Homo sapiens: one gene and its partners. The main gene of each other region encodes a partner of the protein of the gene in region 4 in a complex. Each region holds a gene or a part of one and is shown on either strand. Other genes may lie near its edges. The genes, in order: SMARCD1, ARID2, SMARCB1 and PBRM1.

Evidence for each region.
Region 1: PBRM1 (region 4) and SMARCD1 share a complex: the UniProt entries of both Homo sapiens proteins name them as parts of the SWI/SNF-B (PBAF) chromatin remodeling complex.
Region 2: PBRM1 (region 4) and ARID2 share a complex: the UniProt entries of both Homo sapiens proteins name them as parts of the SWI/SNF-B (PBAF) chromatin remodeling complex.
Region 3: PBRM1 (region 4) and SMARCB1 share a complex: the UniProt entries of both Homo sapiens proteins name them as parts of the SWI/SNF-B (PBAF) chromatin remodeling complex.

The regions. Positions count from the first base shown.
Region 1 is NC_000012.12:50,094,479-50,101,630, forward strand, and holds the end of SMARCD1 (SWI/SNF-related matrix-associated actin-dependent regulator of chromatin subfamily D member 1), read left to right. Parts: coding exon 1-94; intron 95-2,371; coding exon 2,372-2,494; intron 2,495-4,235; coding exon 4,236-4,337; intron 4,338-4,468; coding exon 4,469-4,522; 3' UTR 4,523-6,229; downstream 6,230-7,152. UniProt on the Homo sapiens protein: Involved in transcriptional activation and repression of select genes by chromatin remodeling (alteration of DNA-nucleosome topology).
Region 2 is NC_000012.12:45,732,230-45,740,515, reverse strand, and holds part of ARID2 (AT-rich interactive domain-containing protein 2), read right to left. Parts: intron 1-8,286. UniProt on the Homo sapiens protein: Involved in transcriptional activation and repression of select genes by chromatin remodeling (alteration of DNA-nucleosome topology). Required for the stability of the SWI/SNF chromatin remodeling complex SWI/SNF-B (PBAF).
Region 3 is NC_000022.11:23,824,966-23,833,195, reverse strand, and holds part of SMARCB1 (SWI/SNF-related matrix-associated actin-dependent regulator of chromatin subfamily B member 1), read right to left. Parts: intron 7,972-8,230; coding exon 7,781-7,971; intron 1-7,780.
Region 4 is NC_000003.12:52,682,598-52,690,699, reverse strand, and holds the start of PBRM1 (protein polybromo-1), read left to right. Parts: upstream 1-4,786; 5' UTR 4,787-4,951; intron 4,952-5,100; exon of another isoform or gene 5,101-5,264; intron 5,265-5,785; exon of another isoform or gene 5,786-8,102. Other genes in the region: GNL3 (guanine nucleotide-binding protein-like 3), read right to left, coding at 1-108, 1,494-1,626, 2,508-2,591, 3,085-3,198, 3,317-3,454, 3,873-3,931, 4,595-4,607. UniProt on the Homo sapiens protein: Involved in transcriptional activation and repression of select genes by chromatin remodeling (alteration of DNA-nucleosome topology). Required for the stability of the SWI/SNF chromatin remodeling complex SWI/SNF-B (PBAF).

The DNA of each region.
Region 1 (7,152 bases), on a different chromosome or scaffold from region 4:
TGATGTTGAAGTGGATGACACCTTGAAGACCCAGATGAATTCTTTTCTGCTGTCCACTGCCAGCCAACAGGAGATTGCTACTCTAGACAACAAGGTAGGGGTCTGTGCCCTGGATAGTTGGGTACCACCAGCCCCTATCACAGCTTCAAGGCCTCCTTTTGATTCTTAGTGTTCATTCAAAATACGGTGACACCCAGTATATGTCAGGTACTGTGCTTGGTGCTGGTTTGAGCCAGACTCAAATGAATTCTGATTGTGGGGATACTCTCAACAGCACTGAGCCTCGGTTTCTGATTTGTGGAATAGAGACCATAGTACCTTTTTTTTCCTTTTTTCTTTTCAGGAGTCTCGCTCTCTCGCCCAGGCTGGAGTGCAGTGGTGCAATCCCGCCTCACGGCAACCTCCACTTCCTGGGTTCAAGCGATTCTCCTGCCTCAGCCTCCCAAGTAGCTGGGATTACAGTCACCCACCATCACACCCGGCTGATTTTTGTATTTTTAGTAGAGACGAGGTTTCACCATGTTGGCCAGGCTGGTCTCCAACTCCTGACCTCAAGTGATCTGCCCGCCTCAGCCTCCCAAAGTACTGGGATTACAGGCGTGAGCCACCACGCCCAGCCCATAGTACCTATTTTAATCAGGTTGCTATGACGATTAAATGAGGGAGTGTGTGTAAAGACTTGAGACTGTATCTGGCACATAAAAACAACAAATGGTAACTTCTGCTACTATTATTGTTATCTGGGTTGTTATTACTAGACGCAGTCCTTGCAAATAAAGCCAAAAGTGCTTTGGGAACATGAAGGAGAAAGGGAGGCTTTGCTGGAAGAGTTGATGCCCCAACTAAATCTTTTCTTTTTTTTTTTTGAGATGGAGTCTTGCTCTGCCGCTCAGGCTGGAGTGCAATGGCATGATCTTGGCTCACTACGACCTCCGCCTCCTGGGTTCAAGCAATTCTCCTGTCTCAGCCTCCTGAGTAGCTGGGACTACAGGCACCTGCCACTACGCCCGGCTAATTTTTGTATTTTTAGTAGAGACGGAGTTTCACCATATTGGTCAGGCTGGTCTTGAACTCCTGACCTCAGGTGATCCACCCGCTTCGGCCTCCCAAAGTGCTGGGATCACAGGCGTGAGCCACCGCGCCCGGCCCCAACTAAATCTTGAAGGACAAAGTGGGTGTTAATGAAAGGGCAAAAAGGATAGTAGTGCTGGGGGCATAGGAGGCAGAAGACGTTCCAGAAAGAGGGAATAGGGCATGTAAAGGTCCAGAGAAGAGAGAGAGAGCCTGGTGTCTTAAAGAAGTACGAGCCATTTAGTATGCTAGATGCAGCATAGAGTGCCGAGGACGGGATGTTTTGGGAAGGAAAGCTAGATAGGGAGCCAGATGCCTAATTATGAAGAACCTTTGATTCAGGGAAAACTGGTTTATGTTTCATCCCGAAGACTGTGTAAGACAGCTGGTTGAGAGATCATTACCAGTGGAGGGACTGATGCTATTTGTATATAGAATGATCACTTGCAGGAAGGTGGATGGAGAATAATTTGTCAAGAGGGCAGGGCTGGAGGCAGGAAGCCCAGTTAGGAGGCTGGTGCAGTAATCCATGTGAGACGTGTTGAGGCCCTAAATTTACAGTCCCGACAGTGAGGGTGGAGATAAGTAGATAGATTTGAGAGGTGTCAAGGTGGAATTGAAGGAATTTGGCCACTGTTTGGATTATTAGAGTGAGGGATGAATGAGAAGGAAATGTTATGATGCCTCCCAGGTCTCTAGCTTGGGTGGACAGTAGTATTTACTATGACTGGGAAGAGGGGAGGAGGAGGAGCAGGTATTGGAGAAACGGTAGTGAGTTTAATGTCAAGTTTAAGCAGTTGGATTGGTTGGAGTATAGAAGATAGACTCTGGGCTGCAGACTGGGGACTCATTACCCTGTCACTGGTAATGGAAGATATACAAGTCAAAGAAATTGCCGGGAGGAGTATGCAGAATGAGAAGAGAGTTGAGAACAAAACCCAGAGATGAGAGCTTATGAGACAGCCCCATATGCCAGTCCTTTTCTTCCTGAGAACACTTTTGGACCCATTTGTGCTGTGGAGTAAGTATTCATCATGTAGCTTTGCCCATAGTGGGCAATGTGGAGACCAAAAGGAAAGCTTTCCTCACATGGGGTATACAGAGAGACAGAAACAAGGGCAAATTACTTGCTGAAAGAATGCCAAGGGTCGGAGCAGTTGGAGCTCTATATGATGGTGCCAGCTGTGGGCAGCATGGTGACTAGGTTGGAAGTGGCATGTGGAGTTGTCAGGCACCACCTGCCATTTAACTTCTCATTTTTCTAGTTTGAAAATGGTATGAGCTTCGTTCTTCCTTTCAGATCCATGAGACAATAGAAACCATCAACCAGCTGAAGACTCAGCGGGAGTTCATGCTGAGCTTTGCCAGAGACCCTCAGGGTTTCATCAATGACTGGCTTCAGTCCCAGTGCAGGGACCTCAAGGTAAAGAACCTAGGAGAGGTCTGAAGGGACTTAGGTCAGTGAGGTGCACAGCTGCTTTATTCATGTAGCAGCTGGTAGGAGACCCAGAGGAAGGAGTGAGGGGCCAGATTTTTCTTTAGCATGTTCCAGGGTCCATTTTGCAATTAAGCAGGGAAATGGGGGCAGAGCCATCAAGTGTTGATTTAGTGCTTACTTTGTCTGTCACTGTGCTTCATCTTGTCAGGGATACAGAGTGGAAGACCTGATCTCTGCTTTCAAAGCAGCCTACATTCTGTCTGAAGAAACTAGGCTAGTATAGCCGGGCATGGTGGCTCACACCTGTAATCCCAGCACTTTGGGAGGCCGAGGCCGACGGATCGCTTGAGGTCAGGAGTTTGAGACCAGCCTGGCCAACATGGCGAAACCCCGTCTCCACTAAAAATACAAAAACTTAGCTGGGCGTGGTGGTGCGCGCCTGTAATCCCAGCTACTTGGGAGGCTAAGGCAGGAGAATTGCTTGAACCCAGGAAGCAGAGGTTGCAGTGAGCCAAGATCGTGCCGCTGCACTCCAGCCTGGGTGACAGAGCGAAACTCTGTCTCAAAAAAAAGAAACTAGGCTAGTATGATACAAAGTAGTAAACCACATAAGACATTATCAGGCCAGGTGCGGTGGCTCACGCCTGTAATCCCAGCACTTTGGGAGGCTGAGGAGGGCAGATCACCTGAGGTCAGGAGTTTGAGACTAGCCTGGCCAACATGGTGAAACCCCATCTCTACTAAAATAAAAAAATCAGCCAGGCGTGGTGGCGGGTGCCTGTAATCCCAGCTACCCAGGAGGCTGAGGCAGGAGAATCGCTTGAACCTGGGAGGTAGAGGCTGCAGTGAGCCGAGATTGCGCCACTGCACTCCCAGCCTGGCTGACAGAGTGAGACTCCATCTCAAAAAAAAAAAAAAAAAAAAAGACATTATTAGACTGACCAGGACCAATAAGATGATTCAGATAAGGGAGATCAGTGAGACTAGAATCTCTGGGGAAGGCTTCATGGAAAATTTGGGATTTGAAGACGTTCCCAGAAAGGGGAGCACAGTAAGCTCAGACAAGAAGATAGGAATGGGCACAGAGTATGAACTCATCCGTTGTCACCCCTCCTGTGCTGACTGTGACGAGTTAGAGAGGCTGAGCAGAGGAGCAAGGAAAAAGGGATGCCAGGAAAGATCCCTGAACAAGGCAACGACTTGTTGATTGCAGAGGTGACTGGGTGTTGTATCAGTTTGCTGAGGCTGCTGTAGCAAACTACCACAAACTGGGCAGTTTCAAACAACAGGCTTGTCTCACAGTTGTGGAGGCTGGAAGTCCAAAATCAGTGTGGGCAGCACTGCTTCCTTCCGCGAGCTGGGAGGGAGACTCTGTTCTGTGCATCTCTCAGCTTCTGGTACCTCAGGCATTCCTTGGCTTGTAGGTGGTGGTCTCTGTGTGACTTCACGTTGTCTTCCTTCTGTATGTGTCTGTCTCCATGTCTAAATTTCCCCTCTTTATAAGGGAACCTACCGGTCATATTAGGGGGTACTCTAATGACCTCATCTTAACTTGAGCATCTGTAGAGACCCTATTTCCAAATAAGGTCACATTCACAGGTACTAGGGGTTGGTTAGACTTCAACATTTTGGGGAAGGATACAATTTACCCAATAATGGGTGTGAAGGAAGGAAACAAGCCTTTTCTCCTCTCTCTTCCTCCACCCTGCATCTCCATTTCCCTCAGACAATGACTGATGTGGTGGGTAACCCAGAGGAGGAGCGCCGAGCTGAGTTCTACTTCCAGCCCTGGGCTCAGGAGGCTGTGTGCCGATACTTCTACTCCAAGGTAAGTACATGGGGTGCACGGGGGAAATTGACAAAAGGCACGGGGTTTTCACCCCTGATGGGGGTCAGTGGTGTTAGATACCAACTTCTGGTTTGTCTCATCTTCCACTCCCTTCACTATTTTCTCCTTAGGTGCAGCAGAGACGACAAGAATTAGAGCAAGCCCTGGGAATCCGGAATACATAGGGCCTCTCCCACAGCCCTGATTCGACTGCACCAATTCTTGATTTGGGCCCTGTGCTGCCTGCCTCATAGTATCTGCCTTGGTCTTGCTTGGGGCGTTCCAGGGGATGCTGTTGGTTCAAGGACAACACCAGAATGAAGAGGGTCTCACAAGACACCTGTTATCCTCTTCTTTCACCCTATCTCTTCCCACCCCCAGCTTCCCTTTGCCCCACAAAGTTCCCATGTGCCTGTACCCTCCCCTGGTCTACATAGGACCTCTAGATAGTGTTAGAGAGAGAACATGTAGTGGTAATGAGTGCTTGGAATGGATTGGGCCTCAGGCCAGGTGGTCTTCAAGGGGACCAGCTAACTGATCCTGCCCTTCAGAGACCCAGGAGTTGGGAGCTTTCGCTCCTTCTCCAAGACTCAGGCCTGTGGGCACTCTATAAGCTAGTTGATCTTGGCTCTCCTGATAACAGAATCCAATTTCCTTCCTTCCCTCCACAGGTTTGGAACAAACTCTCCCTTCACTTGTTGCCCTGTAGCACTACAGAAACCCTGGTTCTTGGGCTCCACTGAGCCCCAGGTCAGTCCCCAGCCCTCTGGGTTGGCCTGCTGTCAGTGCTTCTCTCACTCCTTAGTTGGGGTCCACATCAGTATTGGAGTTTTGTTCTTTATTGCTCCCTCCCAGACACTCCCTGTGGCTGCCCTTTGTGATTCCCTCAGATCTGCCCTAATCCCGGGCATTTGGGTGGGGGAATCTTGCCTTTCCCTTTCAGAGCCCCAGGGATCTCATCTGGGGAACTGTCATTGCCAGCAGAGGCTGTTCCTTCCTGCTGTTTGGAGATGTGACTCATTCATTCACTCACTCCACCCTGCCTCTGCATCCCTTAATGGAGAAACGGGCCTAAAACCAAACGGGTAAAAAGCCCTGGGCCATCCCTGTCTTCCTGTCCCTTGTCTGCCCAGTTGACACCTACTGGTGACTTCTAGGGCACTGAGGAGTGAAAGCGCCTAGGGCTGGAGAATAGCGCTGAGTTGGGTTTGTGACTCTTCCCTCTCCCTGCCTCACAGGATTGTGACTCCCCAGCCCCTGCCCTCAAAGCTTCAGACCCCTCAGGTAGCAGCAGGACCTTGTGATCTTGGCCCCTTGGATCTGAGATGGTTTTTGCATCTTTCCAGGAGAGCCTCACATTCTTCTTCCAGGTTGTATCACCCCCGAGTTAGCATATCCCAGGCTCGCAGACTCAACACAGCAAGGGTGGGAGACAGCTGGGCACAAAGGGGGAATTCCGTTCAGCATGGGCTCTAAACCCACAGAACTGACAAAGCCCCTGCTTCCCCACCCCCTCCTCAGGCTCCTGCGAGCACACCCCCACCCCCAAATCCCTCCCTGTTCTACACTGGGGACAGCAGAATTTTCTCCCCGTCTTCCCCTTCCTGCCATTTTCCCTCCCTTGAAAGGTTGACACTGGACAACCTTGGGGCAGCTGAGCCCTGGCCGCCTCCTGGCTGGAACCATGAGAAGGAAGCTCAGTACTTCCCACAGTGTCCCTGTTGATAACTGTTTTTATTAACTGAATTGTTTTTTTCATGGACCAAACTTTTTTTTGTACTGTCCCCTTATTGATGTTACCCAGTTTTAATAAAAGAATCTTCTGAAGGATGGGTCCTCCTACCTACTGTGAGAGAGCTCTTCCCTGAGCTCTTCTTCCTTCAATACCATTAGCCACGCTTGTAGTGTTTGTTCATTTTATTTGACAAGTATTTATTGAGCACCTGCTATGTGCTAGTTGTGATGCTAGACACGGGAGATAAAGTGGAAAATGAGATTTCTACTTTTGTGGACCTCAGGGTCTTACCTTAAGAGATTGCTGTCTGCCCCAGTGGTCCAAGCAGCCTAGTTGCTGGTTGGGATTATTGGGCTTCACCACTGGATCTTAAGAGCCCTTTCCCGACTTGCTAGGCAGGTACTAACAGGTTGGTGGCAGTCATTTTCCCCCTTGTCCATCTGAGCTCCCCAGAGCACTTGTTGGCTGGAGTGAGCCATAGATGCCCGTGATCCCTTAGGTTTGACGAACCTGAGCCGCCTTTGGAGGAGTTTCACTTCTTCCCCAGGGCTTCTGTTTAGATGTGGGCAGGATCTGGACGACCAAAGACATTTTTGCTTTTTGTGCCTGCTACTCTTTTTTTTTTTTTTTTTTTAGACGGAGTCTCACTGTTGCCCAGGCTGGAGTGCAGTAGCGCGATCTTGGCTCACTGCAAGCTCTGCCTCCTGGGTTCACGCCATTCTCCTGCCTCAGCCTCCCGAGTAGCTGGGACTACAGGCGCCTGCCACCATGCCCGGCTAATTTTTTGTATTTTTTAGTAGAGACAGGGTTTCACCGTGTTAGCCAGGATGGTCTCGATCTCCTGACCTCGTGATCCGCCCGCCTCGGTCTCCCAAAGTGCTGGGATTACAGGTGTGAACCACCGTGCCCAGCCTGTGCCTGCTACTCTAAGGTTCCGCTTTCATGGTTCAAATAAGAGTTCAGTTTTTGTTTGCCTGTTTTGAGATGGAGTTGTGTTCTTGTTCCCCAGGCTGGAGTGCAATGGCGCGTTCTCGGCTTACTGCAACCTCCGCCTCCCAGGTTCAAGTGATTTTCCTGCCT
Region 2 (8,286 bases), on a different chromosome or scaffold from region 4:
ACAGTGATAATGTGTGTATGTGTATATAAACACACACACACACTTGCCACATTTGCTTTATATTTTTCTTTTTATATGTGATAGTGTGTGTATGAGTGTGCACACCATCACATATAAAAAGAAAAATGTAAACCAAATGTGGCAAAACAATTAATTGGTTGATCTACAGGAAGTGTAAGCAAAAGTTCACATATAGATAGCAAAAGAAATTTAACAATTTTGAAAAGGAAAAACATGGCAAAAAAAGAAGAAAATAATGGATTCACCATTTCTCTCTCAACTGGACTATATCAAAAATCACATATATTTTTACTACTAGATTGAATTACTACATTGCAATATGAGGCTACCTAAAAAGACAACTCAGAAATTCAAAAGTTTGACTCTTTAATGGTGTAAACTACAAATTATACCAAACCACTTAAGAACTCTTGATAGACTACCTATTATTTGCAAGCACACTGGGAGGTACAAGTTACTCTAAGCCACTAACTACTGTTTATGAAGTTCTATGTGGTCTGATCTGAGCTCAAGCGTATTGCAAATTCACTTAATCTATGAACCATTATGGAAAGTGTGATCAACCTGAGCCTTACTACTGAAAAAGTTAAATTCATCCCATTTTTAAAATATTACAAATTAGGTATTTTCTGGACAGGGCCCTAGCTATGGTCTCTTCCTTGACCTATTGTAATAGAAGAATGTTCCCACTGATCTCATGTATGTTTATATTAACATTTTATTTATTTAAAATTAATCGCTGGGCTAGCATAGAGACAGAATAAAATTTCACCCAAAAACACTTCACCATGAAAGATACGTATTATTTAATAAAGATCATCTTTGTGCACACAGCAATTGACTACTGGCCACTATATATAAATACTTATCAAGTATGACAGTAAGAACTCAGAAAGACCAGAATTATGAAACCTGGCCATATTTTACAATAAGATGTTTATCCAAACAATAGATTACACAACTTTATTTGAATTCTTCATAAAAAGTAACTTTCTGCACTCCAGCCTGGGCGACAGAGCCAGACGCTGTCTCAAAAAAAAAAAAAAAAAAAAAAAAGTAACTTTATATTTTATCCCAATTATATGGTAGTTTTAAAAATTATTTACTGATACAAATAAAAGCCAAGCACACCTGGAACATGGAATATACCTGCATAAGATGAATAGCAACTATGGATAATGTAGGATTATCTATAAGACAATTAAGACAATGCTCTGGCCGGGCGCAGTGGCTCACGCCTGTAATCTCAGCACTTTGGGAGGCCAAAGCAGGTGAATCACCTGAGGTCAGGAGTTTGAGACCACCCTGGCCAACATGGTGAAACCCCATTTCTACTAAAAAAGCAAAAAAACAAAATAATTAGCTGGGCATGGTGGCGGGCACCTATCATCCCAGCTACTTGGGAGGCTGAGGCAGGAGAATCACTTGAACCCAAGAGGTGGAGGCTGCAGTGAGCCAAGATCACACCACTGCACTCTAGCCTGGGTAACAAGAGCGAAACTGTCTCAAAAAGAAAAAAAAAGACAACACTCTGTAAAATGTACAGCAGGTCTATCAGCAGGGAAGGGAATGGGAAGGTGAAGCAGGGAAAGTAGGGTCTGAAAATATGTAAAATATCCTTTCCTGACTAGCAACTGTGGCTGACACTTAAGGCTGGGAGTTGGATATAACCTAAAGCCTTAAAAAAAAAAAAAAAAAAAAAAAAAAAAAAAAAAGTAGCCCATATGCCCCAGGAAGAAAAAAGTTTGGGTGGCATAAAGAATTTTTTCCCTTGCTTTTATACATAAAAAAAGAAAGAATATTTTTCCTAGTTGTTATTTTTTCTAAGATTAAATAACACAATTACTTCTCAAATTTGAAATGATAAAAATAAAATCTCCGGCCAGCCGGGTGCAGTGGCTCATGCCTGTAATCCCAACACTTTGGGAGGTCAAGATGGGTGGATCACCTGAGATCAGGAGTTTGTAGACCAGCTTGGCCAACTGAAACCCCATCTCTACTAAAATACAAAAATTAGCCGGGTATGGTGGCACACGCCTGTAATTCCAGCTACCTGGGAGACTGAGGCAGGAGAATCACTGGAACCCAGGAGGTGAAGGTTGCAGTGAGCCAAGATCATGCCACTGCACTCCAGCCTGAGTGACAGAGAGCAACTCCGTCTCAAAAATAAATAAAAATAAATAAATAAAATCTCCCATATGAAAATGTTTTGAAAAACAAAGCTGGTGGACATTAAACAAAACAGGTTATTGTTAGTATTATTACTTTCACAGGAATTTATACATGTTAACTCTACTACGAAATACCAGGACAGACCAACAAAATTTTCACAAACAAGCATCCAGTAAATTCAGTAAAACAAATGGTACCCCATTTGGAAAGAATATAGTAAAGTTCTATGAGAAAAAAAAACCATACATATATGTAAAGAAAGTTCTCCAATTAGGAATAAGTGAGGAACACTTATTTTTAATTAATTTTTTTAATCCAAATTACATAAACACACTTAGGATAAGTTAGAATTTGGTAGTTCATTTACTCTTTTTTTCCCTTAACTAAAGTGGAGCCCTTGTTACCTTCTCTAGAGTCCAGAGACAAAGTATAAGTGTGTCCAAGCTGTGGTCAGAGATGACAGGTGCAGCTTGAGCAGGTGCCCCTAGACCAGATGTCACCTGGAGGTTTTGTTCTGGATGTAACCCTGACCAATATGTTCATGCCATGTTAAACTAGTCATCTCAGCAACTAAATTGGTTTCATTACAATACTTAGATCAACTGTTCTCAAACTTCAGTGTACTTAAGAATCACCTGGAGCACTTTTTGGAAATACATATTAATCAAATTATTAATACCTAAAACCACTGTTCAATCTTAGCATCACTAAAAGGGGACAACTAAACATTATATGCCTCATGATATGATGAAAAGCACAGCAGTACCTATCAAGTATGCCTAAAATATTAAATCTGAATATTATTAACCTTTAGATCTATCACTTTTCAGCAAATATGTATGAGGGATAGAGGAACAAGTTAATTGACACCAAAAGAAAGCAATCAAAGCCAGAATTTAAGACAGTCTAAAGAACAAATTGACCCCTTTACTCCAAATCAATGGTATAATGGGGAAAAAAAGGGCGGGGGGAGAGGGAAGGCAGCAGCCAAAACATCAAAACCAGCACATTCTCCCTGGGGCTCCACCAAAAATTTCTATGGCAGTAAGATGGGAGTGAAGCCCTGTAAACGCTGACTTAGATATTCATGGAATATGGGTCTATCATTTTTGGTCAACAATTCAGAATGTGATAGCTATTCCTGGACATCACTAAGAGACTTCCATTCCAGCAATAGTTTATTGCAATGTATTTAGTCAAATGAATTATCAATTCACAACATAATGAATACACAGAAAGTATCCAAGCACAAGTGAAATTTATGTTTTAAAACAGAAAAAAGTTTGTTATTTCTTTTATCACATTATAGTTTAAACAGTAGAAAATGTATAGTTGTGCATCTCTTAGGTTGGTGCACAAGTAATTGCAGTTTTGGCGATGGTGTTACACTATTTACTGTGGGGTGAAACACTGGTGAAACACTATTTACTATGGGGAAGGGAAGAGAAGTAGTAATGTTTCCCCAAAATGTCTAGAGATCCACAATACACATTAGCAAAATAAAGTCTCTAAGAAGTCCTGCAATAAAGTAACCCAAGTTTAGCCTTTTGCTCAAGTTCATTTCGTCTTCTTTTCATGGAAATATATTAACATTTCTGGAAAACTAGTGTTTCTAGAGTACAAACTCTAGTTGGCCCTGAATACCAAAGACTGTGGTGATCAAAGCAGCAAAAGGAGAATCCCCTCAACCCCATCCGTCTGCTCCATTTATCCTCTATGTCCTTCCCAATTCAGACAAAATCCATTTTTATCATTAAACTTTAGTAGGTCTGGAAAACACCCAATAAGCACCTTCACAATATAATTAAAACTTTTAAATACTTTACCTAAAAATATATATTAAGTACCTGCTCACTGACTAATGAAATGCAGTTAAAACTGTGTTTTTCCTTCCTTTCCAACTTCTAATTTCATTCAGTTTGAGAATATAAAATATCTAGTAGCAATATACTTTTTTTTTTTTTTTCAGACGGAGTCTCGCTCTGTCACCCAGGCTGGAGTGCAGTGGCACGATCTCGGCTCACTGCAAGCTCCGCCTCCCGAGTTCAAGTGATTCTCCTGCCTCAGCCTCCCGAGTAGCTGGGACTACAGGTGCATGCCACCACGCCTAGCTAATTTTTTGTATTTTTAGTAGAGACAGGGTTTCACTGTGTTAGCCAGACTGGTCTTGGTCTCCTGACCTTGTGATTCGCCTGCCTTGGCCTCCCAAAGTGTTGGGATTACAGGGCGTGAGCCACCACGCCCGGCCACAATATACTTGTCTATCAAAGACGTTATAGATTTCACACGATCAACTATGAAAATACTGAATCCACAACAAAGCAGAGATAGGATTATGAAAGAGTGCTTCTATTCAGGGACATTTTTAGTTAACAGCTAAGGTAGAAAATTTAACTGCAAAAAAAAAGCATATAAACATTTTTGGGAATTATAATGTTCTCATTTTGTATCCTCAGGAAAATTTGTAACCTCAGTGAAAACTATCTGTCTTAGAAAGAACTCAATTTATTTCTACTTTGGGCAATTTAAGCTCTAAAAACATGGATTCTAAGACATAACACTAACCTAGCTGAGCTTTGATAAGTCTTTCAACTTTCTCCACTTTCTGCTCTTCCTTTCAACAAGTCTGCATGTCCTTTAAAAACGTAACAGAATATCAGAAAATATCAAAATCAGGTTTTTTGTTTTTTAAAATGGATACACTGCCAGGCTCAGTGGCTCACTTTTGTATCCGAGCACTTTGGAAGGCTGAGGCACAGTGGCTCACTTTTGTATCCCAGCACTTTGGAAGGCTGAGGCGGGAGGATACCTTGAAGCCAGGCATTCAAGACAAGCATGGGCAACAAAGCAAGACCCCTGTCTACACACACACACACACACACACACACACACACACACACACACGATACAGTTTATAAAGTTAAATTTGAAATACATGCATGAATAACTTATTGATATATTTGTCTTCCAATCTCCATATACTTTTATTTTCCTTCCTTGAATAAGAAGGGCAATCAGTTTATTCAGTTCCGTTTAGCAATTTACAAACTCAGTGCTTATATACCTAAGGCTTTCTCTTAAAAGAATTGATCTATATGGTGGACACTAACTAGAGAACACATGAGTGTATTCATTCAATTTAACTAACAAATGTAAACTCCCTCAAATGGTGTAATTTAAGAAAGAGCTTTACCCACCAAGAAAAAAAAAATAGAATAAATTCACAATGCGATTGAAAATGTACTATGGTAAACATAACTCTACAATTAAGTTTCTGACTATTCTAAAGGTAGGTACATATAAATAGAAATGAATATTTCAGTGCCAGAAAACTAGTAACATATAGTTTTGTACAATAAATTTTTAATGTCCAAGATATTTCACCCCCTTTCCAAAAAAATCAAGTTTTATAAAGGAAACATCAAGTTAACCTTGACTATAGCTGTAATATTGGCATCAGTAAGCAAAAACAAAATTTTAAAATATTTGAAATATTTACCTAAATCTTCATACCAAAACTTCAAATTCTTAACCCAGATAAGACCAGCAAACTGTCCCCCAATTTCAACAACAAAACAGAACAAAAAATTAAAATCCACCAAGTAAATATGGAACACATTAGGCAAAGAGATACTTGGGCATAAATTTAACCATAAGTAATTTCCAAATATTATTGAACACGTCATGAACACAACATTTTGGTCCAATTAATGAAATGTTCCCTAAGCCATTTAATTTTTTTTTTTTTTGCACTTTAATATCTCCATCTACAAAATGTGGGAAACTATACCTTATCCTTTCATACTATAGGAATATCCTAATAATAAACATTGGTGGAACACATTGAGATGTACATGCCAAGAAAAGGAACTACATGAAAATAAAGTGCATAAACATCACAGATGATTAGTATCCAATTTTTAATTTATTTATTTTATTTTATTTTATTTTTTTGAGAAAGAGTCTCACTCTGTCGGCCAGACTAGAGTGCAGTAGCACGATCTCCGCTCACTGCAACCTCCGACTCCCGGGCTCAAGCAGTTCTCCTGCATCAGCCTCCCAAGTAGCTGGGATTACAGGCATGAGCCACCATGCCAGGCTAATTTTTCTATTTTTGGTAGACACGGGGTTTCACCATGTTGGCCAGGCTGGTCTCAAACTCCTGACCTCAGGTAATCCGTCTGCCTCGGCCTCCCAAAGTGCTGAGATTACAGGCGTGAGCCACCGCACCTGGCCTCCAATTTTTAAATAGACTGCTTTTACACATTATCTGTAAGCACTTTACTTTTTTTTAATTTTTAATTTTTGTGGGTACACAGTACGTGTATATATTTCTGGAGTAGGTGAGAAACTTTGATACAGGCAGGCACTTATATTTGTAAAAATTAAATGCCAATGTTAAAATAATCAATTGCATTTTCAATTTTAGACTCTAAGAAATTTTTGTAGACAAGCTATAACTGAATAAATGTATATTTGAGAAAATTAAGTTAATGTCTGGCAGACCATTAATACTCAAGTCTATATTTAATGACTGTCAATATTTGTATCAAAAATAACAAAACACTATTAAAATATACATGGCCAGCATACTAGCTTGCTCTTCCTAATTTAAATTATCTGTAATATTATGAAGATATATCATAAAACACTAGGCTAACAGCCATCCATCCAATTAATAGCAAACTTACAGGGGAATGTGAGCAAATATTAAACTTGTAAAGGAGGAATAACACATATAATGACAGTCTTACAATAGGTCAAATGAAAAAGCAGTTCATATTAAAAAATTATTCCACTTGTAATTTAAAAAACACACTGCATTATCTGCTCATCAGTAATGATGATATTCAATCTGACGTAGCAAAGAGGTAACTTATCAAGTCACTCGATTACTATTTCTTACTATGAAGAGCCAATCTTATGGGTAGGTAATAGAATTGCTGTTACTTGGCATCTTGTCTGCCAATTAAGATTTTTCAGAGGAAGGTGTAAAAGCTAGCATCATATATATCCTCTTACTGTGCAATATTAGACCACCAGGAAAAAATTCTTTCAAGGTTGGTAGTACCTAAGTTTTGACCAGCATATTTCTTTTGTATTTCTTTACAAGCCATGCAAATCTTCACATGGTTTTATTTTCCAAAACAAATGCTTCAACTTTTTTCCTAGTAGCCTAGCTACAACCCTGCAAAAACAAACCTAGAGAGTGACATATGGAGGAAAAACAAGTTTAACTAAGGACATAGTTCAAAAAGCAGCTTCTAATAAGAGCAAAAAGCCCAATTTGATCTGAAGACCATGTAAATACTTACAATGTTGAAACTATATAGTTAAAAACAGTACCTATAATTAATGATATCCTCCCAAGATAAAAATGACAACTGGAAAAACAATATTTATAATTAACTTTTGTTAAAAAAAATTGGAAGCCTAGATATTAATTTGATTATGCTAAAACTATTAGTATGAATGTAAACTCTTCAGAAAAATATACATCTCATGAATCATGTATATTCTATAGTACTTTCTGGTTATAAAACTTAAGTCAATCAATCTAACAAATATGAAGCAAAACTTCAAAAATATGTATTTCAAACAGTCCAAAATTCAAATGCTTTAAACTGATAAAAACATAAAACCAGAATATGTATTAACATGTTCCTCTCAATATCATAAATAGAAATGAGCAAATGAATGTCACGATGAATATAAAACTCTCTTGTTTCTCACCCCACTACTAACTCAACGGTTTTGGAGGTTAATTTTGCTTTTTGATTTAGCCCTTTAATTTAAAATGTACTCTGACACAAATGCCATCACACACACACAATAGATGACAACCATATTTAATATTTTCTAGACTTCCTGTGTAACTCAATAACTACTCCACAAAGTTCTGCGAACTCCAGCTTCAAGCCTGAAGTCAATCTAAGATAGCCAATAGAAAGTACACCTGTGCGATTACTGCATTTCCTATTTCAGAATGCTGAACGTAATACACAATAACTGAGTGCATCTGAAGCAATAATAAATGCAAAACTCAAATTATGCAGAAGCCACCTTACAAAAAAAGGCCTGTACTATCACTAT
Region 3 (8,230 bases), on a different chromosome or scaffold from region 4:
ACTGTCTGCTCCACTCAGTGTCCAGAGCCAGGGCCCACTGATCAGGGAAAGGGGATGGATGGCGAATGGGAGCAAAGGAGTCTCCCAGAAGTCCCCAGCCCCCCACTACTGAGGGCCACTGCACAGCCTGTTCCTGCATGTTCCACACACTTGCCCCTCAGCCCACCTCCTGGCCGAACAAAACCCCCGAGAGGCTGGTCTGTGCTTAGGATCAGACAGCTGTCTGGCAGGGAGCTGGACAGAAGCCGTATCCCCGGACCACACTCTGCCCTGGGTCTCACAAGGACCACCCAAATCTGCCCCGAGGTACCTTCCTCTTGCCAAAAGGACACAGCAGAGGAAGGGGGCAGCAAGGGCAGAGGCTAAACAGGCATGGGGTGGGCACAGGAGTGCTGGGGAGGTGGGAGGGTGGCTGGCTGCCGCCTCTCTGGGCTTTGATTTGCAAGTCTGTGACAGGACACTAAGGAGACCACAGCTGTGGATGCCACAGGGCCCGTGTGCCTCCCACATGCAGTGGTCCCGTCACCCCCACCTCTGAGAGCAGCTTTGGGTGCTGACAGTGTTTCCCAGTTGAGTGACACCAGACCCCTGGCTTGGCAGAAGGCCTCAGCCTGAGGTCCTAACCATGACTCTCCCACTTCCCCTCCCCTCTCTGTGGTCCTTTCCTTTCTCCTCCACTTGGGCACCTCCACTTGGCTCTCCCTAGGCTCAGTCCCCTGGGAGAAGGACACCCTGCCAGCCTGCGGCCCTGAAAAACACCATGAGCTCTGGGAGAAGCAAGGGCAGGCCGGACTCGGGGGAGGCGCCAGGTGGACACTGATAGAGAGGACAGGTCCCTGCAAACCTCATCTGGAATATGGAAACATTTATTGCTGTGAAGGGCTTTGGAAGGATGACTGTTATTAAAGCAGCCAAAACATCTCCACTGAGGGAGCTTCCTAGGGGCCAGGGACCTTCTCACAGCCTCCCTGTAGTGGGTGGCTCAAGGTTGTGGGACCAGCCTGCTTGCAGAGCGAGTCCCGGCTCTGCACATCCACACCAGTGAGCACACACCCAGCTCCAGTAGCCGTGAGCCCGTTCCAGGTTGGGCTCAGTGCTGCTCTCCTCAGCCTGGGGTCTCAGGGACTGTGGGCACAGCGCAGGGCACTGGCTGCAGCTGGCTCTCCCTGCAGCAGGCCTGACCCCTCACAGCTGAAGCTCAGCCCACCAGGTCCATGCTCATGAGTCGCAGAAGCTCAAGCTCGTACTGGTGACGCAGAGGCAGGGCCAGAGGCAATGTCGGCACCCCCACCCTCTGGGGCTGACCCATCCTCAGCAGCTCCTGACAGCTGGTCCCTGGCCAGCACCGGGTGGTTTAGCAGTCTAGGGACCACCCTAGCCTCAGACCCCAAACATCATTCCTCACCGTGAGGGCTCCCAGCAGCCTTCCTTGGAGGGCAGACGTGAAAGGTACCAAGCCCACAACGAGGGGAGCAAAACATGTTTTCCTCTTAAACAAGAGCTGGCGAGTGGGTCCCAGAGGGTCCTTTGTTTACCTCCCCTTGATGCTGGGAATATTCCACTCCAGTGGGTTTGTTCTAAAGTAAGAAATGCTCGCACCAACCATGTAAGAACGGGCCTAGAGCCAGCACTAGCCTGCCTTGGGTTTTGGGGGCATGTGGGCATGGAGATGCTGTCCTGAGTTCCAAAGAGTGCTGGGGACCCTGGGAGCCACCCTGCTCCCCATTCCTTCCAGGGAATTCTGGTTCACGGGCTTCGAAGCCGCCAGGGACCCCAGACCTTCCTACCACCCAAAGTGTCCAGGTGGGGACAAAGATACCCAGGCAGGGGATGCTCACGTCTGAGGGACAGAGGGAGCCAGGACTGATGCCGGTCGAGTATCTTGAGGTTTACTTTCAATGTGATCTCACTTTCATGACCTCATGTGATGCAACACACAAGTATTATCCCCAAGTTACAAATGACAAAATACAGACTTCAAGGGAAAATGACCTGTCCACAGCCACTCGACCAGGAAGGGGAGATGCCAAAACTTGGTGTCACCCTTATGTTTGCAATTCACACCTCCGAGGCCGCCAGGAGCCTCAAATGATTTTTAGAAGGGTGCCAAGTCCACTCAATGGAGGAAGAGCAGTTTTCAACATGGTGCTGGGGCAACATGACTCTGGATTGACAATGGATTCTTAGATATGAAACCAAAAGCACTAGCAACAAACTAAAACAATATATAAATTACAGGCCTGGTGCAGTGGCTCACACCTGTAATCCCAGCACTTTGGGAGGCCGAGGCGGGCGGATTATGAGGTCAAGAGATGGAGACCATCCTGGCCAACATGGTGAAACCCCGTCTCTACTAAAAACAAAAAATTAGCTGGGTGTGGTGGCAGGTGCCTGTAGTCCCAGCTACTTGGGAGGCTGAGGTAGGAGAATCACTTGAACTCAGGAGGCGGAGGATGCAGTGAGCCAAGATCACAGCACTACACTCCAGCCTGGTGACACAGCGAGACTGTCTCAAAAAAAAAAAAAAAAAAAAAAAAAAAAAAAAAGATAAATTGGACTACATCAAAATGAAAACTTTTGTGCTTCAAAGAACACTATCAAGAAAGTGAAAAGGCAATCCTCCAAATGAGAGAAAATATCTTCAAATCATGTATCTATCTGATGAGGGACTTCTATGTAGAATATATAAAGAACAATTACAACTCAACAATAAAATAAAACCCAATTAAGAAACTAGCAAAGCACTTTCTCCAAAGAAGATACACAAACAGCCAGAAATACATGCAAAGATGCTCAATATCATCAGTCATTAGAAAAATGCAAATCAAAACCACAATTACTTCACACCTCCTCAGACGGCTACGATCAAAAAGAGAACAGCAAATGCCAGCAGGATCCAGAGAAACGGGAATCGCACGCTTCTGGTGGGAATGCAAAATGGTGCAGCCACTTTGGAAAACAGTCTAGAAATTCTTCAAAATGCTAACCACTGAGTTGTCACGTGACCCAGCAATTCTACTCCTGGGTATATATCCAAGAAAATTGAAAACAGATGTTCACACAAAAACTCATACACAAATGTTCTCAGCAGCAGTACTCACAATAGCTGAAAAATGGAAACAACCCAAAAGTCAATCTGCTGATGAATGAATAAAATGTGGTATATCCATGCAATGAGATAATATTCAATCATAAAAAAGAATGAAGTCCTGATAAAAGATGCTACAACATGGATAATCCTTGAAAACATTATGCTAACAAGCCAGTCATAAAAGACCACATATTAGATGGTTCCATTTCTATGAAGTACCCGGAATAGGCAAATCTACAGATAGAAAGTGGATGAGTGGACACCTAGGGCTGAGAGACAGCGGGGAGGAACGGGACTGCCTGCAGTGGGGTGATGAAAAAGTCCTAAAATTGACAGTGGTGATAGTTACACAGCTCTCTGCATATATCAAAAACCGCTGCACTATATACTCTAAATGTGTGAATTGTATGGTTTATGAATTATATCACAATAAAGCTGTTAAAAAAACAAACAAAACCTGACATCAGGCCAGGGCTGGCGGGCAGAGCTTCGGAAGGAACCTGAGGCTTACGCTCAACCAGCCCAACGTGTACCTGACATACCCCAGCCTAATTCCTGATGCTGTGCCATCAGAGGGACACTGCCTCTCTGTCCCTCATGCAGGCCCAGCTACCAAGCTCCCTGACCCTTAGTCTCTTTTCATCCCCACCCTGTACGTGTAGGACTGCTGGTGTGCAGAGCCCCCTGGGGCAGATACCCTGCCTGATCCACAGGGCCCACCTTCCTTCTCAAGCACCTGCCTGTCCCTGGTCTCCTCTCGGTCCTTCCTGCTGCAGTCCCCCATCAGCACCTGCCCTGGCCATCCTCACCCCAGGTTCTATGCCCCCAACTGCCCTTCCTCATGCCCACAGCCTCCGGTGCTTTCTGTGGCCATGGCACACTGATAGTCATGCACATGAATCTGTTTCCTCTGCCAGACAGGGCACTGTCTCCTCCCGTCCCTGGCCAGGAACACAGGGCTGGCCCAGGGGAGGTGCCAGTAACTTTGCAGGATCAGCTCTCCTCAGAGGCTCTGCCTAGCCCAGCCTCCTTCCCCTTGAGCCCTGTCTCCCTCCTTTCGCTGGCCCTTCATCCCACTCCACTGGCTCTGGGACGCCTGTGTCACTCTGGTCCCAGTCTGTCCTCTAGGAGCCTAGGGCTTCTGACCAGTTTGTCACATGCCCCTGTTTCCCCTTCATGCTTGTCTCCTGTCTGTCCCACTGCCAAAGGGAACAGGCTGTTCTCTGCCCTGGTTCCCCTGAGGTGTGGGCATAGTGGCCTTGCACACACATGTCCTGTGGCCAGCAGCTTGCCCCACTGTACCATGGATCCAATCAATGTCCCCACTGCCGAGGAGGGTATGGAAGTCAGGCACTGAGCTCTGGCTGGGAGAGATGGAGGGACTGGCTCTTGGGGAATCAGCGAGTGCTTCCATTATGGAGTGACCTAGGTCCAGAGCTGAAAACCCTTTTTTTTGAGATGGAGTCTAGCTCTGTCGGGCTGGAGCACAATGGTGCAATCTCAGCTCACTGCAATCTCCGCCTCACGGGTTCAAGCAATTCTCCTGCCTCAGCCTCCCGAGTAGCTGGGATTACGGGTGCCCACCACCACACCTGGCTAATTTTTCTACTTCTAGTAGAGACGGGGTTTTGCCATGTTGGCCTGTCTCTAACTCCTGACCTCAGGTGATCCGCCCACCTCGGCCTCCCAAAGTGCTGGGATTACAGGCGTGAGCCACCATGCCTAGCCTGAAAACCCTTCTTAAGAAGTCATGTGGCCGAGCGCGGTGGCTCACGCCTGTAATCCCAGCACTTTGGGAGGCCGAGATGGGTGGATCACAAGGTCAGGAGATCCAGACCATCCTAGCTAATACGGTGAAACCCCGTCTCTACTAAAAACACAAAAATTAGCTGGGCGTGGTGGCGGGCACCTGTAGTCCCATCTACTCAGGAGCCTGAGGCAGGAGAATGGCGTGAACCCAGGAGGCAGAGCTTGCAGTGAGCCGAGATCACGCCACTGCACTCCAGCCTGGGCGACAGAGCGAGACCCCATCTCAAAACAAAACAAAAAGTCATGTGACACAGCAGTTGCCAAGCTTTCTGTGTGGCAGAGACCAGGCCAGGACTCCTGGTCTAGCTCTCTGTGGGCTGACTGGCCCCTGGACCTGGGGACTCAGTGGCCCAGCCTCCTTTCCCCAGGCAGGGCCAGGCAGGACTGACACTGGTCTCCCTGGGGACAGAGTTAAACGAAGTCCCTCCTAAGATCCCATGGGGTGGGGTGGTACAGTGGGGGGAACGCGAGTTGGAGTCAGGGATGACAGCCCAACCCTAAGGCCCTGTCCTATCCTTGCAGCTGTCTTCCAGTGTGGGGACTGGGAAGACACACGCAGCCCTCCTGATGCTAAAAGCCCACTCAGGACACTTCCCAGTTCCCCAGGCAGGCCGCCTCTCCATCTGGCTGCTGTGATAGGGACGTGTGCTCACCTTGGTCCCAGCGGGATGGCCTTTGCCTTTAACCCCAAAGATTTGAAACCTGCATTCTCAGCATAAGAGAGAGCAGGGGGCAGGGGGTCTGTGATGCCCCCAGGCCCTGCAACTGGAATGCACTAAGTGGTCGATGAGATAAAGAAGGGGCCCGCCTCTGCCTCTAAATCCTGACCTGCCACCACCAGGGACTCCCCAGGGGGTCTGCTCTGGAGCCACTCTGCAAACTGCAGAGGGCCCGGAACTTGGAAAGGAATTTAGGCTCAGGTCACCTTCGGGTCAGAGCAGGAGGGATGGTGCCATGGTGGCTGAAAGAAGGGATGTTGCAAGGACCTGTCAAGAGGCCCCGGGGACTTCAGTTCCTGACCCTGGACTGTGGGCACTGGCAGCGGCTGCAGGACTAGGTGAAGGTCAACACCGTAGGGGCTGGATGCTGGGGGCAGCCAGCCTACCACCTGCACCTGTGAGCCCAAGACGAGGGTTCTGACTGGATCAGCCTCTGCGGGAGGAGGTGCTCAGTGTTGATGCGCGCAACATGACTGCCTCCCGGGGCCTCAGAGTCAACTCTGGTGGAGGGAGGCCACCCTTGACTGGCTCTCCGGCCATAGGGCTTGGCTCTGTGCAGGGTGAATGCACGCTACAGCTGCACTCCCAGGCAACACCCCGAGGGAACAGGGAGGCATCAGACACCAGCCCCCCAGCCTCCTCTCTGGGCTGCCCTGTCTGTGAAGCAGAACCATGTGACTGGCAGGGCTGCTGGGGGGCAGGTCACAGGATCTCAGCACCATGGCGCTCAGGCAGGGACTCAGCTGTTTCCCAGGCCCGGGCCCTTGAGCCCCGTGGGTGGCTCTCATTCCTTCTTCCTTGCTCAGATTTATGGGAAGTCATAGAAAGCTGTCTCTTGGGATGTCTGGGAAAACAAGTTAGACACAAACCTAACGAGCTCCATTAATTGTCATGGCTTTGCAAAACAGACCTTCCTATTTGCTCCTCATGTAGCATTTTAAGCTGTCATCCCTGAGTGATGACTGCAGATGTGGATGATGATAGTCTGATGAGCAGACTAAATCTGAACATCCTGTTTTGATGTAGGGATGCTTGCTGCACCCCCACCCCATCCCAACACAGAGGACAGGGTGAGGAACCACGGGGCTTCCCAGTCCTAGAGTCCTGCTGAGCCGGGAGAGTTCAACCTCGCTATTTTTTTTTTTTTTTTTGGAGACAGGGTCTCGCTCTGTCACCCAGGCTGGAGTGCAGTGGTGTGATCTTGGCTCACTGCAGCCTCCACCTCTTGAGCTCAGGCGATCCTCCCACCTCAGCTTCCTGAGTAGCTGAAACTACAGGCATGTACCAACATGCCCGGCTCATTTTTTCTATTTTTTTTTTTTTGTAGAGGTGGGGTCTCACCATGTTTTTCCCAGGCTGGTCTTGAACTACTGGGTTCTGGTGATCCACCTCAGCTCCGCGAAGTGCTAGGACTGCAGGTGTGAGCCATCGCACTGGGCCTTGACCTCACTTTTAACTCTGAGTCCCACCTCCTGCCAGGAACAGGAGGGCCTCTCCCGGGTCCATCCCCATCCCTACCACAGAGGACACTGGACTGGAATATTCTGTTCACACTTCCACCATCTCAGCCAGCCCAAATGCTACAGGCAGGGATCAAGGTGACCTGTCTCTATCTTCCAGGGCAGCCAGGATGGGGTCCAGCCCAGCATGGTACTCATCAAATGCTCTCTGACTGACCAAAGGCAGAGATACTAGAGTAAGAAGGAGCTGCTAGGGACCCCTGACTCTCAAAAGCTGGGCGGGCCTTTGTGTTTAAGACATAATTCAAGTTCAACAGATGAAGAACCCTGGGCAGGGGTCACCCTGACCAAAATAACAGTCTGGGCAAGAGCAGAGAGAGAGGGTGTGGGGCAGGACAACTGAATGGTGGATGGTGGGGGCAGGCCAGGGCTCCGTGGAGGCAAGGACTTGAGGTTCACCCTGACAGAACTCCAAGTCTTTGCCAGCTATTGTGTTAGGTGCTTCTAACCCTACCTGGCACAGCGGAGCCCTGGAGAGATACATAGGGCAGGAGGAGGACGGAGCAAACACACAGACCCCAGCCAGATTGTGCTGCGAAGCGTGAGAAAGCCTCAAAGGTATCACCGCTCACACAGAGAAGTCTTTCTCAAAACAGTTTTGCAGGGAGATGAGGGAGGGAGAGACTCATGCATGATCCTACCTGAAGGCGTAGGTCTTCTGATGCCAGCTCAGCTGTCCCCGGATGCTGTATGCGATGGTGGTGACAAACTCCCCGCCCAACCCCAGCTCCGAGCACAGCTTCAGGGCAAACTTCTCTGGTGAGTTCTCCTTCTCTGACATGTCCCACTCAAACTGGTCCACCAGGGAAATGTTTCCCACATGGATGTTCAGCTGAGGCAACAACCAAAGGACACAAGTTAGAGCTTTTGCAGCCCAGGGAGGCCGCGAGGAGCGGGGCCCTGCCAGGCCTGGGGTGGGCCCTGCCCACCAGGGTCCACCAGCTGAGAACTGCAGGTGGTCCTTGTCCTTCCAGTTCCCCATCCCCAAAACAAGGCTGACCCCACAACCCTGTCTGCCATGAGGGGCTCTGGCTCAGGGCCCAGCACAGTCACCCTCGGGAGGCCCTGAAGTGACCCCGGGGGCACCTGAG
Region 4 (8,102 bases):
TTATCTTCCCTTTATCCTTTGGTTTTGTTGAGGCTCTGAACACCACTGTTGGCAATTCTTTCTTCAAATAATTTAGCCAGCTCTCCAAATTCTCCTTTGGTACCAGATCTGATAGCAATTAGAAATAAGACATTTGCGGCCAGGCACGGTGGCTCACGCCTGTAATCCCAGCACTTTGGGAGGCCGAGACAGGCGGATCACGAGTTCAGGAGATCAAGACCATCCTGGCTAACACGATAAAACCCCGTCTCTACTAAAAATACAAAAAAATTAGCTGGGCGTGGTGGTGGGCACCTGTAGTCCCAGCTACTCGGGAGGCTGAGGCAGGAGAACGGCGTGAACCCGGGAGGTGGAGCTTGCAGTGAGCTGAGATGGCGCCACTGCACTCCAGCCTGGGTGACACAGCAAGCCTCCATCTCAAAAAGAAAAAAAGAAAAAGACATTTGCTCCAATGTGGCTATTTTGTTGAGATGCATTTGCAAAATCTGGCAACTATAGATTTTACTCTGGTTTACATTTTCCCAGTCCTTTCAAAAGGATTTAACTAGAAAATCAGGGCAGGGTAAGCTCCCCTACCATACTGCCCGTATCTTAACAGAGCTCAGCATCTGCACTTCTCTATTTCAATTCCCCTTGTATTGCTCACTTGAAAACTTCAGGACAGACTCAACGTCTGGATTACAACCCTACTAACCCTAGAGCTATGTTTCCAGAATTTACCTTTAGCTAGCAGCCAATTGTTTCTTCATTTTTGAGACGAAGTGTTGTTGCCCAGGCTGGAGTGCAGTGGCACAGTATCGGCTCACTGCAACCTCCGCCTCCCGGGTTCAAGCAATTCTCCTGCCTCAGCCTTCCGAGTAGCTGGGACTACAAGTGCCCATCATCATGCCCGGCTAATATTTGTATTTTAGTAGAGATGGGGTTTCGCCGTGTTGGCCAGGCTTTTCTCGAACTCCTGGCCTCAAGTGATGTGCCCACTTCAGCCTCCCAAGCAGCCAATTGTTTCTTAACCCCAACAACAATTTTAGATCTCATTCCCATTTTCTGCTTTGTAATTCTCTGTTCTGGGTTTTCTTTTTCCTGCTGCTCAAACTCAGATGCATAATTATGCATTTCATTTAAATATTTTGTCACATACGTTCCAATTTATTTCACTCTTGAACTAATACCCGACATTGTGTAGGTGTGGGGAATTTGTCACACTGTCATCACTTCCTAGATGAAATATACTACACAATAAGCTGGGTATAGCAGCTTACACTCTTTATTTAAAAGATGGTAAATACTGAATGGCAAAAGAATAGTAGAAACCAGTTGAGTCAGTTGTAAAAGTCACCTGGCTCCCCACTGCCTAGCACTGTCTCTGGCAAAGTGCACGTACTCTGGCTTTGCTGAGATCAGAGTTGGATCTAATCAGTCTTCAGTGACTATCAGACTGTTTCCTCGTACCTCACCCATGTACACAGAAGACAAAGGGTACCCTCTTTACTCACCTGATTTATTTAATATAAGTACCAGCTTTTTCTGTCCACTCTGGACAATGGCCTCTTCTACCTGAGGACATCTGCAACCAAGAGGATCTCTGGCATCCAACACCTCTAGGACAACATCGGAGGCTTCAATCACCTATCAAGGAAAAAATGACCAGAACTACATTATCAAGGAGAAAATGATCAGAACTACATCCCTTGTTCTGGTAATACCTTCCACAAGAGAGTACTGGCATTATCCATTTAGCAACAGGGTGAGCTCAGAGTTGGATCTCATGTCTTCACTTTGGTATGAAGAATGTTGACCCTCATCATTTCTCACACAGGAAAGTAAAACATAGGCTTGCTCAGCAGTCTCTGATCAAGATGGATTTCAAAAATGCAAATATCCCTGTCTGAATCCTCCCATAGTGAATTATATAGTTTGATAGGTCCTTCTGGCCTTGCCAAAAGCTGCTGAGGGGCAGTCAGGTTCTATCCATGGGGGAGTGAGCTTGGGAAAATGGATGTTGGGGATGGGAGTGCTGGAGAGCAACTACACCAAGTTGTCCTCCTTCACTTAGGTTTCAACAGAGTACTTTAGAGACCTTTAGCCTGACACTGCTTACTCCAATGTACCTTTCTCAATCTCAACACTATGTCAACGTTTTTTTTTAATGTTGTAAATCATGCTTACAGGCAGAACCAGTTTTGTGCAAATATTTAGAACCAAAGAAACTATTTCCGTCAGGTAAACATAGCAGGAAAGGCATTAAACAGCATAAGCTAGAGTCGAGTCACGAAATGATTTGTTGGTGAAAAGGTGGGAGGAGGGAGAGGATCAGGAAAGATAACTAATGTCGTACTAGGCTTAATACCTGGGTGATGAAATAATCTGTACAGCAAACCCCTATGACGCAAGTTTACCCATATAACAAACCTGCACATGCACCCTTCATCTTAAAAGGTTAAAAAAAAAATGACTTGAGTCTTTTAAACCTCATTACTACTGTCAGACACTGACCTAGGCTAAGATACCTTTTTAAGTTCTTGGCAGTACAGCTTCTTTGAATTCTGTTTGCCCGACTTGGCTTTGTTCTCAGTTTTGCAAAGCCCAAACTCCTAGAGGATAAAGGGGGAAATAACACAAAATTAGAAGTAGAGCAACTGTAACCTCTAACTCCATTTTCCACAGCTGAGTAGCAGCCCTTGCAGTTGTTAAATAGGTAAGATGGAGTCTGAACTCAGTTGTCTTCCTCCCAAGAAGCTCAGCAGCCTGTGGATGTGCTTTTATTTCTGCATCAGAACTCATCTCTCAGCCAGGCACAACAGCCCACACCTGTAATACCAGAAACTTCGGGAGGCTGAGTTGGGTGGATCACTTGAGACCAGCCTTGGCAATATAGTGAAAGCCCGTGTCTGCTAAAAAAAATTAGCCAGGCGTGATGGTGTGCTTCTGTAGTCCCAGCTACTTGGAGACTGAGGTGGTAAGACTGCTTGAGCCTGGGTGGTCCAGGTTGCAGTGAGTTGTGATTGTGCCACTGCACTCAGGCCCAAGCAAAAAAACCAAAATCAAAACCCCTGATCTCTCATTCATAAAGAGACCTAATCATACCTTTTCCATAGGTTCCACATTTGATGGCTTAATATCAGGATTAGTTTCAAGTTTTCTTTTCTTTTCTAGTTCCTTCTGCCTGTCAAGTTTCTGCTGCTGTTTTAGTTCTTCAAGCTGTCAGAGCCATAAGGGAAATAGGTGAACCAGTGACTAGTGTTGTTACCTTACTCTGAAAAATATCACACATAACACACTACACCACTCAATGAAAATTCTGGCTAACATAACTTACCCTCTGTTTCCTTAGCTCAGCTTCCCTAAGAAGAGCCTCCTTAAAGGGAGCACTGTTTGGAACTCCTGGGTCTTTCCTAGGCTTCTTGTGACCCCGCTTTTTAGCCTCCTTTCTTAATTTTCGATGATGTTCTCGAACCTATTAAAATAAAGAGATTTTGTCTGCTTACAAAAATATCTTTATACTTAAGCAGAATTCAAGTGAGAAACCAATCTGGCTGCAATTTAGTTATGCCTATAAAATGTCCTAGGAAAATGGAGCTTTAATTGGAATCTTACAAAGTAATGCATATGTAAGTATAAAACAGCAAGAAATTGTAACTAGAAGGCTCTCTATGCAGAGATTAACATGCTGAACAAATTTAGAGACTTATCACCAAATCACTGCACTTTCTCACAGCTGCACTCCTGATGCCTAAGAGCTTGTGCCCATGGTCAGTCTATCCAATGCCATTTCCCAAAACCAAATCACATTAACCCAGACTTTCCCGCAAAGGAACAGGGCAAAATCAGTTTAGCAATGTGTTTGGTACAGCTCTCTCAAGCACTACACTTACCTTTTTTTGGATTTTATACCGCTTATGGCAGGTCATGCGTTTACTTGCTTTCTTTAACTCTACAAAGAAACACATCACAAATCTGTTAACCCAAATGATTAGTTCTGGGTTAACGCACTATGGAGTTATATCCTTTTCTTGTGTTATTGGCTACCAAACCTAACGTTAAGTCTAATGCGAAATGCCTAATGCAAACATACGTGCTACTTTCAAATCCCAGAGAATTAAATTCAGTAGATCCAGAATGGAGTCAAAATTCCCTGCACTTACCCTCACAATATTAGAATGGGATCATACACAACAGCGTATGAGACACAAAACGACAACCACTTCGTGTCAAACAGCACGAATCATAAGGCAGGAGAGGAACACTGAGTCTGGGAGGCGATTCTCAGCTCTCACCTGGGCCAGTCTGCACGTGGCCACGGAAAGAAAATATTGGGCCTCAAACCTGGCTCAGACGCTGCTTCCTTACGAAAATCTAGCCTAGTCTTCCCCACCCTCTGCCCGGCTTCGTTCCGCAGAATGAGCCCGCGCGGTTAACATGATCGCCGTAGGGACTTCCAACTCTCGGTTCTACCAGGAAATAGGGCCAAGGCCTACGCGTAGGCTCCCACCCCCATACCAGCAGAGACAAAGCCGTAGCCGTAGAAGAGCGTCGTGGTGGCTGCAGCAACTTCCAGACGTGGGTCCCTCCACGCCCGCCTCCCGACCCCACTTACTAGGCCTTTTCATATTGGCTGTAGAAGGAAGCACAAACACATCAACCTGCCTCCGCTGGCGCCACGTGTGAACTGAAGCCACTGACGAGCGTCACGCACTTACGCTGCCGCCGTAAAGTGCGTCACCGCCTCTCTGCGTGCGCGGGCACGCAGTGTCGCGCGGAGCAGGGATCGCTTGGCGGCCGCGGGACTGGTTTTGCGGCGGCACCGGGAGGGGTAAGGGAGGTGAGGGCGGCGGGTGCCGAAGCGACGGCAGCGGCCGCGGCCGGAGGAGCAATAGCAGCAGCCGTGGCGGCCACGGGGCGGGGCGCGGCGGTCGGTGACCGCGGCCGGGGCTGCAGGCGGCGGAGCGGCTGGGTAAGGCCGGGCCCAGGGCGGGTGGGGCCGCTCCCCCTTGGTCAGCTGCCGGGCCTTTGTGTGGGCCCGGGCGGGCGGGAGCCGCGGCGGAAGCCCCGCCCCGGCCGTGGGGACGCGCGGGTCGGGCCGGGCGCGCGGGGTTGGGCGGGGCGCGGCGGCTGGCCTCCGGATGGGCCCAGTAGCCTTGTCGCACCTGCCGGCAGGGACAAAGGCGCACTACGGGTCGGAAACTCCCCGCGCTCCTCTTTCCCGCTCGTCGCGGGGCAGCTTCAAAGCTGTCAACGTTTCCCTCAGTCCCCAATACCAGTGACAGGTCGGGAAAGTCCTTCATTTCCTCCGTTGCTCAGGGCCTCTTTTTTTTGTTGTGGTTTCTTGACGGTTCGACACAAACTCTTAGTGATTTTCTTTCCGTATTTTTTCCGGGTATTTTAATCAATGGGACTTGTATTTATAGTAGAGGCCAGATATTTCAGCTTCTCAACACCACAAAGAATCCGGGATTTTGGGAACTGTGTATATTTCTTGGTTTGGGGAAGCACAGTTTTGTTATTATAATAAGTTTTAATTTAAAGGGGAAGAAAGAGTTGCAAAAATATAGAAAAAGCCCTGAAAAATAAGTACACGGTATAGTGGATATAGAAATTCTTACAATAATTATAGAAGCGTATGTTGGGGTGAATTGTTTTAATTAACTTACTTTCCAACACAGGATTCTTGACAAATAATTTTAGGTATTATTTTTTTCTCCATTTGGCTATGTGCTTTTCCCCAAAAAGTGCAAATTGGACTCATGCACATAAAAGAGTAGCATAATTTTTGCTTTATTACTTACAGGTCGCCCATATTTGATTTTGAGCTCCAAAATGGAAGATTGGAAAATATGTTTTGAAGAGGTGTTTCAAATTAAAACAATAAAGAGTTTATGTGTGGATGAATGGAAGGGCCTTGACCGCTTTCTTTGGCTTTGGGAATGTACAAAATACCTCAAATGTTAATATCCTACCAAAATTCCCAAGATAAGTAAATTGTGGTGTATCTATATGATAGATTACTATCAAGTCATCAAACATCATGAGGAAGAATGTTGACTTGGAAGAACCTTCACTAAAACACAGGCTGTAGAATAATATATGTGGTTTGTTAACATTTTGGTAAAAAATAATAGGTAACTAAGGCATAAATACCAAAAACCGAATGACAACGTTAAGAGTGGTTTTTTTCTTGGAAGTAGGTTTATAGGTGTTTTTTTTCCTTTGAGTCCTGTTTTCCAAGATTTTGTTTTAAACATGTATTGTATTGCTAAATATTACTAGAAATATAGGAGAGGGCTAAAGTTCATAAACGGTCGAAATACACTGTTTGTCTATAGTAAGTCGATATTCTCCCAGTTGCACATTATTAAGTATTCTTAACTGTCCACTATAAATTATTGATTGTTAGACTTTTGAACTTGTAACTGTAATCAAGGCCATTTTAAAACTTGGCATTGAACTCTGGAATCTGTCTTTCCTCTTCATGGAAAGACAAAATTGCTGAAGGGATGCTTACAGGCATTTTTTTTTTTTTTTTTTTTTTTTTTTTGAGACAAGGTCTGACTTTGTTGCCCAGGCTGGAGTTCAGTAAAGTGATCATGGCTCACTGAAGCCTTGTGCTCCTAGGCTCAAGCAGTCCTCTCACCTCAGCATCCCAAGTAGCTGGGATTACTGATGTGCAGCACCACACCCAGCTAATTTTAATTTTTGTAGAGAAAAGATCAATCTATGTTATCCAGTCTGGTCTTGAACTCTCTGCCTCAAGCGGTCATCCTGCCTCAGCCTCTCCAAGTGCTGGGACTACAGATATGAGCCCCTGTGCCTGGCTGAGGACTTTTAAACTATACAAATAAACTTTTTTTTTTGAAGGTCTCAAGTGCACTTTTTTTTTGTTTTTTTTGGAGACAGTCTTACTCTGTCCCCCAGCCTGGAGTGCAGTGGCGCAATCCCAGCTCACTGCAATCTCTGCCTCTCTGGTTCAAGCAATTCTCGTGCCTCACCCTCTCGAGTGCCTGGGATTACAGGTGCATGCCACCACCTTGCCTAGATAATTTTTTGTATTTTTGATAGAGACGGGGTTTCACCGTGTTGGCCAGGCTGGTCTTGAACTCCTGACCTCAGGTGATCTGCCCACCTCAGCCTCCTAAATTGCTGGGATTACAGGCATGAGCCACTGTGCCTGGCCCTAAGTGCACTTTTAATACATTTATTAAAAGATAAACTGAGCACATAACCTATACCAAATACTATCCTGTAAGACAGGTCTACAAAAATGAATATGCTGTTCCTGTGCCTGGGGAACATGCAGAAGTGATTTCACTTTATGTTGTTTTTTTTTTTTTCTTGAGACGGTCTCGCTCTGTCACCCAGACTGGAGTGCAGTGGTATGATCTCGGCTTGCTGCAACCTCTGCCTCCTGGGTTCAAGCAATTCTCATGCTTCAGCCTCCCAAGTAACTGGGTTTACAGGCATGCACTGCCTCAGCCAGCTAATTTTTTTTTTTATTATTTTTTTGAGACAGAGTCTTGCTCTGACGTCCAGGGTGGAGTGCAGTGGTGCCATCTCGGCTCACTGCAACCTCCGCCTCCCGGGTTCAAGCGATTCTCCTGCCTCAGTCTCCCAAGTAGCTGGGATTACAGGTGCGTGCCACCAAGCCCAGCCAATTTTTTTTGTATTTTTAGTGGAGACGGGGTTTCACCGTGTTAGCCAGGATGGTCTTGATCTCCTGACCTCAGGTGATCCATCCGCCTTAGCCTCCCAAAGCGCTGGGATTACAGACATGAGCCACCGCACCCAGCTAAATTTTTGTATTTTTCTTTAGTAGAGACAGGGTTTCACCACGTTGGCCAGTCTGGTCTCGAACTCCAAGTGATGCACTGGCCTCGGCCTTCCAAAGTGCTGGGATTACAGGCATGACCCACCACTCCCGGCATTACGTTCTTATTTTAGAGATGAAACAGATCTGAGAGGTTACATCAACTAATCAGACAACATCAAGCTGATAATCAGAGGTGGAAGACTTAGGACTCCTATTCTGGTCTTAGGAGCAAAGGTCCTGTTGTTTCTCCCACCTTATAACATTGCCCTTCTTGTCAGACTTTCAAAATACATTTTAAAAT